Homo sapiens: one gene and its partner. The protein of the gene in region 1 purifies or fractionates together with the protein of each later gene. This does not show direct contact. Each region holds a gene or a part of one and is shown on either strand. Other genes may lie near its edges. The genes, in order: GBP7 and GOLGA4.

Region 1 (3,703 bases):
CTGTGTGGGCTGATATTCCTTTAGTCTTTGAAGTGTCTGTTTCTTTCATGGGGTTTTTGGCTTTTATTTTGTTTTATTCTCTTGAAGATTCAACTGGTATAAGTTGGGTTCATCTGACTGGGTTTTTTTTTTTTTTTTCTGGATGATTTCAAGGGGCCAAGGCTCAGATCAGCACTCCTGAGCTGGGGGCTTGAACCTTAGTAGGCTGGGACCAGGCCCATGGCTTTGTTCTCTGGCCCCTCTAGGTTAAGCACCTGCTGTGCTGCAGGGGCCAACTTGCTACTGGTTAACTGGCAACAACACACCGATGAGGAGTGCTGGCAAAAGTACTTTCTCAGAGCAGTGGCAGTGGGGTCCAAGGTCATTGGTGAGCAGCAGCAGCAGGGCAGTAGTGCTGCAGGTTCTGTGCATGTGCATTGGTGGTGGCAGGTTGACAGGGTCTGCACAGGTATGTGTACCAGCAAAGCGGTGGTGAGAGGCTGCAAGCGAGTGTGTGCCAGCAAAACAGTGGGGAGAGGGTGCATTGAGTGCACACTGGTGTGAGCCCATCTGCTGAAGCTCTATGATGGTTAGGTAGGGTATGTCAGCAAAGAAGATATGGTGATGGCTGCTGGGAAGTGCTTCAGTTAGGCATCTGACATTGCACTTTAAGTGGATGCAGCCAGGCAGGGACCATGAGAGAGGCTAGCAGACTGGGAGGTGCTCAGACCATACTGGATCTGTCCCACAGGCAAGATAGCCCAGTTCTATCCAGGACCAATAGTCGACAAAAGCCAAGGCCATGTATCTGGGCATGGCAAGCCTTGGGGGATGGGAGTTCCTGGTTGTGCTCCACTGCAGCCATTCCTGTGCCAAATATCTAGGCTCCACACTGGCCAGAGTCCTGTCCCTACCAAGTCTCCAAGCAGCTCTCTTTGCCAGCTCAAACATCTATGGGAGTTGTGGGGTCTCCTAAAGCTAGGATTTCAGAGGTCCATGGCAAGAGTGGGCCACTTCGCACCAATTTACCTCACCCCTTCCCCAGGAGCTGCTCAGGATTAGGAATGAGTCTTGGTGCTTGGCAACCTGTGCAAGGTTCCCAGCTTCCTCTCCCTTCAGCCTTGGGTCTGCATCCTTCCTTCATCAACTCTCAATGCCTTCCTTCTGAAGTCCTGCTTGGAGTTTATCAGTCTTCTTTACGGTCTGGTCTCTCAGTGGGAGAAGCTCTTCCTGACTCCATCTACTTAGCCATGATGGTTCTTCTCCCACCTGACTGTTATTTTCTTCCCTCTGTAAAACCTCGGTGGAACAGCTAAGCAGGCTAAGAAGGAGGCAGCTGAAAAGGAACAGGAGCTGCTAAGACAAAAACAGAAGGAACAGCAGCAAATGATGGAGGCTCAAGAGAGAAGTTTCCAGGAAAACATAGCTCAACTCAAGAAGAAGATGGAGAGGGAAAGGGAAAACTATATGAGAGAACTGAGAAAGATGTTGAGTCACAAGATGAAGGTGAGTCTGGATGAAGCTTGGCAGTGCTTGAGGCACAATGCCAGTTCCTCATTTAGGGAAGAGCCAAAATTTTAAGCTCAGTCAAGATTTCAGAAGGAAACACAAAAGATATATTTCACTTAAATTTCAAATACATATGAATTCTACTGAAGCCTGTAAGTTTACAAGACTTCAGCACTTTCTGTCATGTTAGACTTTGGAGAGTACACATGACATCCCCCAGGGTGCTGGGCTGCTGTTTGTGGTGATTATAGGATGGTCTCACTGTGCCCCAATTAATTAGGACCTTAGTCCACCAGCCCTTAGGATTCTTGGCACAACCATCAAAAGGACCCAAAATACATCCATCTGGATGAAAGTATCAGATTTGGCTTGATATGAAATGATACTGAATGATCTCAAATTGCTCCATTTGTTTCTGTATCTGCCTGACTCATCCTATACAACTAGAGTAAAACATATTCCTTGTCCCAAACTGGAGCTTGACAACCAGTGTTTTATACAGGGTCAGCAGTCCCCATTATTTGCTAGATGAGCATGGCCTTGCTATATCGGTGGAAAGGGGAATCAATTAGAATTAAATCTGCATTCCCTCTCAAAGGGCATTCATTGTGCTGGAACAAAATTCCTCCCCACCTCCAGTGAGATGGTGCTGAGGAAATGTCACAAAGGTGTATATCATGGATACTCCCCTTATTTAGGTCCAGTCATCTGGAAATGTCAGACCAACTCATCAAAGATTTTCTAAGATGTTAGAGAAATGGACACATGTTTAACTAATGAAATTGTTAAATACAAACCTCGGTCTCTTAAAAATTGGGGATTTTCAAAAGTAGGCTCTTTTACTTTTATAGGTCCTAGAAGAACTGCTTACTGAAGGATTTAAAGAGATATTTGAGTCGTTAAATGAAGAGATTAATCGACTGAAAGAACAAATTGAAGCAGCTGAAAATGAAGAGCCCTCAGTGTTTTCACAGATTCTTGATGTGGCTGGCAGTATATTTATTGCAGCACTACCTGGGGCTGCTAAGCTAGTTGATTTAGGAATGAAAATTCTTAGCTCATTATGTAATAGGCTGAGAAATCCTGGTAAGAAAATTATAAGCTGAGGTTTCTTTTGTTAAAATGGTATAACGCTGTTGCTCATTTTAAAAGTATATGTGTTATTGCAGTTTCATTTAAGAAAAGTTTAAAATTAAAAAGCAAATTTCAAAGAATATTATGGCCTGAAGTTCATAAAAACAAACTTAATTTTGACTAAAGTAATAATTAATAGAAATGGGGAACAAGTTAGAAGATAAAATTATTCCTAGAAAAGATTTAAGTAAAGCAAAAGGACAAATGGTAATATAAAGAAATTATTTTCAATTAATGTTATAGTCACAGAGATAATTTAAGTTATAATTAGCTCTTGCAAATCAGTGAGAAGAGAGTAACGCCACATATTTTAAACAGGCAAAAATATGATAATAAAAATGTTTAATTTTACTGACAATAAAAGTTGTGCAAAGAAAAACTATGAGGTTCTTGCTTCAATTTATCATGGGCTTGAAAGAACAGTTTGACAGGGCACTGAGCTGGCAAGGGTTTGAGGATATTGTCAGTGTCTCATATTTGCTAGTGAGAGTGTGAACTGTTGGAATCATATATGAAATATTTAAGTGCACATACCTTTGATCTAGCATTTCCACATTTAGAAATCTATCATATAGATTGATTTACTCAAATTGAAAATGGTATATATAAAATAGTACTTATGTTGCAGCATTGTTGTAATGCCAAAAGACTGAAAAAAACATTAAAGCCCCTCTTTCAGGTACTGATAAGGGAAATCTTGGGAAACACTCATAAAGGAATACTCTACAGCCACTAAAATGAAGGGAGAAGCTCTATTTGAACTAACAATGACAAGTCTCCAAGATGTATCATAAGTAAAAAAAAAAAATGATGCACGAAGCATGTATAATTACTACCACTGAATTTAGAAAATAATAAATGTATGCATATATTATTATCTCCTTCTGGAAAAATAGAAAATTATCTAGTATACATGGTCACAGCAGGAATGAACCTGAATAGTTGAGGTGAGAAATTAGAAAATAACTCATTTCACATCATATATTCTTCTGTGCCTTTTTTTAATAAAAATTGATTACATTAATGTTATATTTATTATCTTTGTTGAGTGCTTTAGGTTAACAAATACAGATTTCCTTTA
Region 2 (3,822 bases), on another chromosome or scaffold:
CAAGATGTGAACTTCCCTTTCTCTTTCCTGCAATTTTGTATTTAGCTCACTCAAATGGCTTTCTGTACCTTTTTTATACTGTTCTTCTTTCTCTTCCATTTGAGATAACAACTGCTTCTTAATGGCAGCAATTTTTTGTTCAGCTTTTCTCTTCAACTCTGCTAATTTTGCAGCACTTTCTGACTCAAGCCTATCTTCCAATGCCTTTAACTCCTCCTCTTTGCTTTTCACACTTAAATTCACATGTTCTAATTCTTTCTTCTTAGTTTCAAGTTCAGCTTTCATGGAATAAACTTGGTTTTCAAGTGTTAAGATTTTTTCTTCAGCTTCTTTAACCCTGTTGTCCTTTTCTTCTCCTAACTCTTGAAAATGTTGAAGTTTCTGAACCAATTCTTTGTGTTCAATATCCTTTTGTTGATTGTAATTTTTAAGAACTTCATTTAAGGACTCTATTTCAATAGTTTTCTGGGTAATATGGTCCTCTAATTCCATAATTCTTGCTGTTTGAGACTTTAACTCTGTTTCTAAATTAGACTCCTTTTTCTCCATCTTGCTCTTGTCGTCTTCCATTTCACCCTTTAAACAATCAAATCTTTTATTTTGCTGATCAAGCTCTTCCTTCAATAAATTTATCTGCTCATCCTTTTCATAAGCTTCCTTTGATTTTAACTCAAGCTGGATCTGCAATTCTTTAACAGTGTTTTGATGCTGTGTAAATCTTGACTGTGCTTTCTTCTTCCATTCTGAGAATTTATTGGACCAGTCATCTACCTGCTCAAGAGCAGAAATTTTCTCTTTACTCAGAGTGTCAACTTTAAAAGATAAATCTTGCACCTGATCCAGCAATTCACATTTTTCTTCATCATACTGCTTTCTTAGTGATGAAATGGCTGCTTCTTTTTCGGATAGGCTGATGCTATTTTGAAGCTGAACATTCAAATCAGTTAGTTGTTTACTAAGACTGCTAATCTCAACTTTTTTTTCTTTAAGCTCTTCTTTCATCAATGTGACAGCATTGATGTTTTCAGATAACTCTTTCTTCAACTGTGTTATACAAGACTCCTTTTCAGAAGCAGCCTGTTGCTGATTGCCTCCTTCCTTCTGTAAGGCTTCTTTTTCTGTTACAAGACTTTCAATATCAGCCTTCATGCTCTTAATTTGATTTTCTTTTTCTTCTAACTGATGAGTAGCCTGTTGAAAAGAAATATTTAGTGTATTTTGCTCCTCTGTCAACTGTCTAAGTTGTGCTTCTAATTCAGAAACTGTGCAAGTTTTAATTAACAGTGCCTCCTTAACTTTAGTTGTACGGTGCTGACAATGAGAAATCCTAGAAAGAATGGCATTAGTTTTACTACTACTAATGTTGATTAGCTCATTTGTTTTAGCTTCTAATAAGGCTTCGGTTTTCTTACAGCAAATATCTAGCTGAATCGCTAGTTCCTCAGACAGTTTTTTAAATTCCAAGCTCTTGTCCTCTAGGCTTTTGTTACTTTTTTCATGTGAAGATTTCAAACTCTGGAATTCTTCATCTGTGGTTTTCAACTTGCTAGTCAACTCAGAAACCTTCCGCTTATCTTCTTCTGCCAGCATCTTCAGTTCAACTAGCTGCTCTTGAAGAAAAGTATTTTCCTTCAGAGACTTATTCAAGTCAACCTCTAGCTTTTCAAGATGAGCTTTCAGTTTAGTTTCATCTTGTGCAAGAGAATTCACATGGGCAGACTTCTGCTTTAACTGTTCCTGTAATTCATTTAATGTTGTATCCTGCTTAACACCTTCTTCCTTCAGCCATGTTATTTCCTTGTTCATCTCTTCTTTTTCACACCCAAATAGGAGGATCTTTTGTTTCAGTTCTGCTACCTCTTGTTCTTTTTCCTGTAATTGGATTTCATGTATTTCCTGAAGTTCTTCAGCTTGCTGATTAAGTTTCTTTTCCCAGATTGATATGACATCATTGAGTTCTCGTCGATGAACCTCAGTAAGACTTTCTATTTGTTCTTTTTGGTTTGTTTCCAGTCTTGACACTGCATCACTGATTCCAGCTGAGTTAGCCTGTGCCATTTCCAGCATTTTGGCATTAAACTGTTTTTCTTTCTGACTAAGCTCTAGAGCAGTATTTTCAAGCTCTTTCTTAAGTTTGGCTTCCTGATCCAGTAATTTTTTCTTTAACGTTTCTTGCATCTCCTTTGCTTTCTGCTTAACTTTTTCCATCTTTTTTTCTTGGTTTTTAAATTTGGTTTCATATTCCTCATTCAAAATATGAATACTGTCCTCCTTGGCTGACAATTTCTGTGTGAGTATCTCAATTTCTTTCTTCTGTCCTTCTCTCATTTGTAAAATCATATTTTCCTTTTCCACCAAGATTTGCTTTGTCTGTTCCTGTTCTTTGTTACCATCTTCAAGTTTGGACTCATAGACTTGGGTTAAAGATTTTACTTTTTGCTCCATTTCACTATTTTGTTTTTCAAGTTGCTGCATTAAGTCCTGCACCTGGATTTTGTGAGCATCTAACTCAGTACAAACATCTTTCTTTTGTGCTTCAACTTCAGCAACCTGTTTGGTAAGAAGAATTCTTTCTGTTTCCAAATCCAACAACTTCTGCTGCAATTGGGCCAACTGTTCCTCATATGCTTTTGTCTGCTCATGTGTGGCACTCTGGTAAGACTGAAAAACGTCCAGCTTAGCAGATGCCTGCTGGAGTTCCCCTTCAGACCTTTTAATATCTGCCTCTAAATTTTCTACATGAGCCTGATGCTCTTTCAAATGCTTGTCCCTTTCCTTCAAGAGAAGCTCAAGTTGATTAATTTGATCTTTTAATGCCTTCTCAGTCCTCTGGATAGATACCTCGTGTTCTTTAATGATACTGTCAACTTGCTGCTGGTGATGATTTTTCTGTTCATCCATCTTGGCCTCTAATTCCTGCTTCATTTTATCTGTTTGATCTTTCAGAACAGAAAGTTCCTCTTCTAGTTTGTGACGGGCTTTTAATACTTCTGACAGTTCAGAAGATAATGATTCTAGTTCTGTTTGCTTCACATCAAGCTTTTCTAAAGTCTTTTCATTCATTTCTTCTATGTGGGCCTGGAAGATAATCTCTTTGTCTTTCAACAATGTTTCTTTTTCTTGTTCACACTTTTCCCTAAGTTTTTCCATTTCAGTCTGATATTGTTGCTTTAAGACTTGGAGTTTTTCAGTCCAAAGGGCATCCTGCTGATGCTTAAGGCTTTCCAATTCTGTCTTGTGTTTTTCAACCATGACTGTAATCTCCTTATTGTGCTTATTTTTTTCAGCTTCCAGATGAACAGCCAAATCTTTTGACTGATTTTTGTTTTCTTGTAAGCTTTTTTCCAAAGAACTTTCCAATTCAAGAATTCTCTGTTAATTAAAAACAGATGCATTTTTATTAAAGTACGTACTTGTCTACTAACAATGATACACAGACATGATGTCTACCACCTACCTGAAGATCAAAATTATCATACCAAACACTAGAAAAGACAAAGAATCTATGCTCAATTACTAAAGGAATCATATAACAAAGAAAAGATTATGGCAAGGCACAGTCCAACAGTTTGGGAGGCCGAGGTGAGCAGATCACTTGAAGCCGGGAGTTTGAGACCCAGCCTGACCAACATGGCAAAGCCCTGTCTCTACCAAAACATACAAAAATTAGCCGGGCATGGTAGCATGCGGCTGTAGTCCCAGCTACTCGGGAGGCTGAGGTTGGGGAATCCCTTGAACCCAGGAGGCAGAGGCTGCAGTGAGCCGAGATCATGCCACTACACTCCAGCCTGGGCAACAAAGCGAGACTCCTCTGTCTTGGAA

The links.
Region 2: the proteins of GBP7 (region 1) and GOLGA4 purify together in Homo sapiens (affinity purification with mass spectrometry; one large-scale study listed by BioGRID and IntAct). This does not show direct contact.

The regions. Positions count from the first base shown.
Region 1 is NC_000001.11:89,131,040-89,134,742, reverse strand, and holds the end of GBP7 (guanylate-binding protein 7), read left to right. Parts: intron 1-1,291; coding exon 1,292-1,485; intron 1,486-2,339; coding exon 2,340-2,594; 3' UTR 2,595-3,001; downstream 3,002-3,703.
Region 2 is NC_000003.12:37,323,138-37,326,959, reverse strand, and holds part of GOLGA4 (golgin subfamily A member 4), read right to left. Parts: intron 3,373-3,822; coding exon 1-3,372. UniProt on the Homo sapiens protein: Involved in vesicular trafficking at the Golgi apparatus level. May play a role in delivery of transport vesicles containing GPI-linked proteins from the trans-Golgi network through its interaction with MACF1. Involved in endosome-to-Golgi trafficking.